2 separate regions of the Homo sapiens genome follow, and region 2 is linked to region 1. A link means that fine-mapping ties the variant in region 1 to the expression of a gene that starts in the linked region. Tissue or cell type: whole blood. Region 1 holds a variant in brackets; the other region holds the start of a gene. All regions are shown on one strand. Distances are from middle to middle.

What was found. PIP is the estimated chance that this variant, and not a neighbour inherited with it, causes the effect.
Region 2: SPRY2 starts here. The variant in region 1 is fine-mapped to the expression of SPRY2 in whole blood (INTERVAL, PIP above 0.99).

What each region holds. Positions count from the first base shown.
Region 1 is chr13:80,030,469-80,033,156 of GRCh38, reverse strand. No RefSeq gene overlaps it. Among named protein-coding and RNA genes, the nearest start is that of LINC01080, 21 kb to the right of the region's middle. The variant T/G (reference allele first, on the strand shown) is at 1,506.
Region 2 is chr13:80,339,600-80,342,287 of GRCh38, reverse strand. SPRY2 (sprouty RTK signaling antagonist 2) reads left to right here and starts at 1,162. Exons shown (of 2, transcript NM_005842.4): 1 at 1,162-1,666. RefSeq lists silencers at 745-794, 1,025-1,214.

The sequences.
Region 1 (2,688 bases):
CTTGAGGTCAGTAGTTTGAGACCAGCCTGGCCAACATGGTGAAACCTCATCTCTACTAAAAATACAAAAATTAGCTGGGCATGGTGGCGCATGCCTGTAATACCAGCTACTCAGGAGGCTGAGGCAGGAGAATCACTTGAACCCAGGAGGTGGAGGCTGCAGTGAGCTGAGATCAAGCTGCTGCACTCCATCCTGGGTGACAGAGTGAGACCTTGTCTCAAAAAAGAAAAAAAAATGTACATATGTTTTTTAAAAATAAAATTTATTTTATTTCAAATATAAAAGAGTAATGATTGAATATAGAATTTTCTGAAAATTTGGAAAATTTGACTTAAAAACATTTACTCAGTCTCACTAGAAAGACAACAAATATTAATATTTTATTGCATTTTTAGTCTTTTAAGCATCTTCTATATAATTTTGATACATAAATTTTACTATAATTTTTTACAGTGCTTCTTTTACTAAATATTATGTTTTTCCATTATTAGAAATAACCATTAGTATATTTAATGTCTACATGCATAGACTGAATGTACCACAGTTTACTTGAATTTCTTTTTATGGCCAAGTGCTTTGTTTCCGCCTTTTCTCCATATTCTAAATAGCACTAAAATGAGCACATTTGTACACAAAAGTTTCCCTGTATTTAACATGATTTTCTTTGAATAGATTCTTGGATTTAAAATTACCTGTCTCAGACTTGGAAATTTAAGACCCCTTCTACACACTGTGAAATTATTTTCCAAAGAAGCTATAACGTTTTTCTTTCCTGCTAACAAAACACTATCTCCAGTATTGAATATCCTAAATTAATTTTTAATCTCTGCCAATTGGATAAGTAAAAATTTAGATCTTGTTTTAATGTGCATTTTGTTGTTTACTAATAAATTTTTTTCATGTTGGCTGATGAAATATATTTTCTCTTATATGCATTTGACTTTCAATTCTGTTCATTTTCAATTGAGATATTTACATTTATTTATGAAAAATATGAACACGCATTTCTGAGAATTAATAAAATAAAATAAAACCTAGAAACATAAAACATCTTAGCTGGTCTGGGAGAACCAAGTGTTATAGGTATAGAATAACTTATGCTTTCCAATTTTCACCTTTTGGAGCCCAGACAGTTCAGTATTGTGTTTGAGAAAGATAATTCCAAAGTAAAACAATCATAATATTAGGATAAATAACACCATTTAACCTAAATCTTTCCCAGGGTAAGTGCAACATCAAAGATGTGGCCCGTTTAAAGGCAATTGCCCTCAAATGGAAGATGTATGGTCAACATCAAAAAGTTTGGGTTCTTTCCTCAAGTGATCAACCTGCAAATGGGAAGGGGGCAACATGTTTAGTGGCAAACATGCTAAATAACTGCTTCACCATTTCCCAAGTATTTACAGACCACTGGAATGGACACATCTGCCAGTTCATAGTTAAGTAAAGCAAGTTTGACTCAAAGAAAGCAAGTTTGGTGATCTTTGTAGACTTTCAAATTTCCT[T/G]CATCTTGGAAAAAGTGATTGACAAAGGAAGTGTCAAAAAGGTCAATGAACTACCTGGATATAAACTGCATCTGGAAACCCCTTTTTTCAAGATTTATCCATTGGAGGAAGTGCTAGGTATTGGTTAACGGGACAGTTGATCTCCTAGGCTGTTGACGAAGGCCATAAATGTATGCTTATTATTCTTATTCTGTCAACATCTTTTGACATCTCTGTATGACTAATCATAGATCAGCCACAGAGAAATATAAAGTAAATGACTCCCTTTCCCTAAAGTTCAGAAACTCAAGATGCCTAGAAATTGAATTTCTTGACAGTTTAGTCCTTTTGCTGTTCTTTCTCAAGAAGTGTGGGATAATTGATGCTAAACAGACCTATAAATATTTGGTGTGTTTGTGTGTGTGTGTGTGTGTGTGTGTGTAAAATAAGACGCCATAGTGATGTTCTATATGACACTCTAATTTATATTAGAAAAAAATAACATATTTTAGAAAAAAGCAATTTTATCACGCACAAATTTAATGTCCATGTTTCTGTATCTATTTTGTTTGTATCAGTGGTATAATATTTCCCTTAGAAAGGTGAAACCTGTGCCTAATAAGAAGAAAACAATTACTTCATAAAAAATACAATGCCAGAACTCTGCTAACATTCAACTATCTATGTGTAGTATAGAAGTGTTTGTGTGTAGCTATCCTAACATTTCTATCCCCTTTTCCAGCATGACAAGCAGGAGGTAAACAAAAATTTAAAATAGAAACTCTGACTTCTCGTTTGGCCATCCCTTCTGCCAGCTCTCCTGTTTACTAGTAGTTTCTGGTCTCCAGAGAATCTGACCAGCATTGGTTTCCAAAAGCGTATACCTTTAAGGCAGCAGTTCTTCCCCAAAGGCAACTTTGCCCCCAGGGGCATTTGGCAAGATCTGGAAACAATTTTTTATGGTCTATGGGGTTGTGACTGGCACCTAGTGGGCAGAGGCCAGGAATGCTGCTTAACATCGTACAGTACACAGGACAGCCCACAACAACAGCATATCCAGCCCAAAATGTCAATAGTGATGAAGCTGAAAAACCCAGTGCATGAGCCACAGTGAGGACTCTGTGCAAAGACAAAACAAATGAAAGGAAAATCATTAGACAGTTGACCACTCCCCTGCCACAGTCTAGAAAACAATTCATTTGGG
Region 2 (2,688 bases), 310 kb before region 1:
GAAATGAAGGATGACTTTTAGTTAAGGGAAGAAGGAAATCTGCAGTGAGCCAACCCTTCCCTCCCCCCCGCCCCCCCATTTCGGAAGCCCATGCTGTCGCCCTGAGTAATCTTGTTCCTGTCTATTAATGAATTAAGTTAAAAGGCTTAGACTGTAGACTTTAGCTACTGCATGAAGCAAAATAGTAAGGAAGCTCTTCAAAAAGCCTCCATTCATAGATAACCCCCCTTAAAAATGAAATTCTAATAAACGGAAAAACTACAAGTCGACACAATCAAAAGCAAATCCCAGCAAGAGCAGAAGGTACTTGAAACTCGAATCTGCATTCCGTTCCTCCCGTACAAGGCTCGGAGGTGGGGGAGGCGGTTTGTGCTGGTGCCTGGTGTATAATCGGGTTAATCCAGTAGACAAAGAATAAACCAATAGCCCTCCCACCTCACTTCCCGCTCCCCTTCCCCTCCCCCTTCTTCTCCCCCCGCCCCAGCCCCCGTCACCCGCTCCGCAAAGGGGAACAGAAAAGGGGAGAGGTAGACTTGAAATGGATTCTGGATAAAGTCTTAAAACCTGCAACTTGTTTTTCATGCTAACACTGCGTGGCCCAGATTAGTCTTAAATGTTCATTCCCCTTTCCTGGTGGCAAGGAGAAAGTTCCCTAAGTCAGCTCGAGCCTCTGGCTCGTCCTCATTGCCTCTGGGCAAACCTTAAGGTCAGTGTTTCCTTGAAACTAGATAAACTGACCCTGCAGTGCCCAGCCCGGCCCCGCGGGCGCCCCGCGTGACGGCGCTCGGGCGGCAGGACCGGCCTGGGGACGCGCGGGGCGGCGCGGTTGCCCTTTTGAATGCCTCCTGCGGCTCGGAGCGCTGGCGGGCGCTGGAGTGTGAGTGAATGTAGCCCCGCGGAGCCAATGAGCTGGGACCGGATGCGATATATCCTCTGGGACAACAACTGCTCTGTTCCGCCTCGGATCCACATGACGCCATTTACTGCTGCCGCGGCCGCCGCAGAGCTCCCTGCCTCCTCCGGAAAGGCGAGGGCGCAGGCCAACGGCGAGCCCCCCCCGGGCGGGCCCCAGACCCTCCTCCTCCTCCTCCTCCTCCTCTTCCTCCTCCTCCGCACCCACCGCCCCCGCCTCGGCCTCGCTGCCTCGCCTCCACAACGCCCAGTCTGCACCGCCGAGAGCTGCGCGCCGCAGCGCTAGCGGAGGAGAGGGGCCGGCGGAGCGCGCAGCGCCCAGGCCCCCGCGCCCGCCCGGCCCGGCCCGGCCCGCGCCCCCGCGCCGCCTCCGCTACGACGCGGCCCCGGCCGCACCACTTGGCGATCTGGCTTTAGGTTCTCCGTAAGGCCGTTTTCTTTTCCCATTCGCTCATCTGCCAGGAAAAGGGACTTGCCGTTGGCGCTTCGGCCTCTTGTTCATTGAGAAAAAAGAGGAAATACTCCGCGTGCGCTTGTAGAAGGGGAGTCGTCTCCAGCTCCGAACCCCGGAGTGTTCATCAGCGGGGAATCTGGCTCCGAATTCTCTTTTTTTCTCCCGCCGATTGCTCGGAAGTTGGTCTAAAGCAGAGGTTGGAAAGAAAGGAAAAAAGTTTGCATCGAGACTGGATTTATTTGCACATCGCAGAAAGAAGAGAATCCAAGGGAGAGGGGTTGGTGCAAAGCCGCGATCACGGTGAGGCACGTTTGGCTCTTCCCCTCCTGGCGCCGCGGCCGGCGCGTTGTGGGCAACATGGAGTAGGTGCAGCCGGACCAGGAGTTGGGTCCGTCTCTCCCCGAGCCTCCCTTTCTCAAATCCCGCAGGGTCTTCGCGAGGATCCGGGGCGCTCCCCGCGGACCTGCCTCGCCCGGGGCTTGGGCTCGGCCTGCCTCTGCGGGGACTTCTGTATGCACCCCGTGCAGTGTCCCCGACAGGCGACCCCGCGCGCCCGCGCTCTAGGGGGTTGGGACGGAGGACAGCTAGCCTGAAGTCTGCTCCCAGCCGTGCACTGGCCGCGAATTCGGCGCTGAGAGCGGGAGAGGGAGAGAAAAACACTTTGTATTTTCCAGGTTGCCTTTGCAGGCGCCCGCATTTCTAACCTGTTCTTCCTCTTGGTGGAAGGCAAAGTCCAGGGAGAGGCTGTCCCTAGGCGGGGCGCTGGTGGGGCTGGGGGACACAGGTTGCCCGCCTCGGGGGCAGGAGACTTCCAGGGTGAGAAAAAGGCAGGGTGCCGGGTGGAGGGAGTGCCCGCCTCTGCTCCGTGTGGACAGTCTAGCCCGGAGCGGGTGGGAGCGTCGCCCTGCCTGGCGCCGGGTCTCTGCGGTTCGGAAGTGCAGCTCTCTCTCTTCCGTTCTTCGTGGTCAGCCTGGGTCACACTTATTTTATTTTTGGAAGCTCGGGCTGACCCAGCGCAGGAAGAAAGTCATCAAGCGGTCGCGATCATTTTCCATTACCTGAAAGTAGGTGGCAAAATAGGCAATTTTTTATTTCCTTTTGTTGTTGTTGTTGCTGTGTTTTAATTTGGATTCTTGTGTGTTTTTTACAAAGCAGTTTCTGTGTCCGTTTGCCCCACCCTAGAGCTGAAGTTCTTTTCCCCTAATCCTCAGTCTGATCACACACTGTTCTTAATGGGGGTTTCAAAGCACTTTCAAAGGGGAGGGGGGACTGGGAAAGAGAAGAGGGGCGGAGGTAGGGAGTCCAGCTTTGAAGAAGGAGGC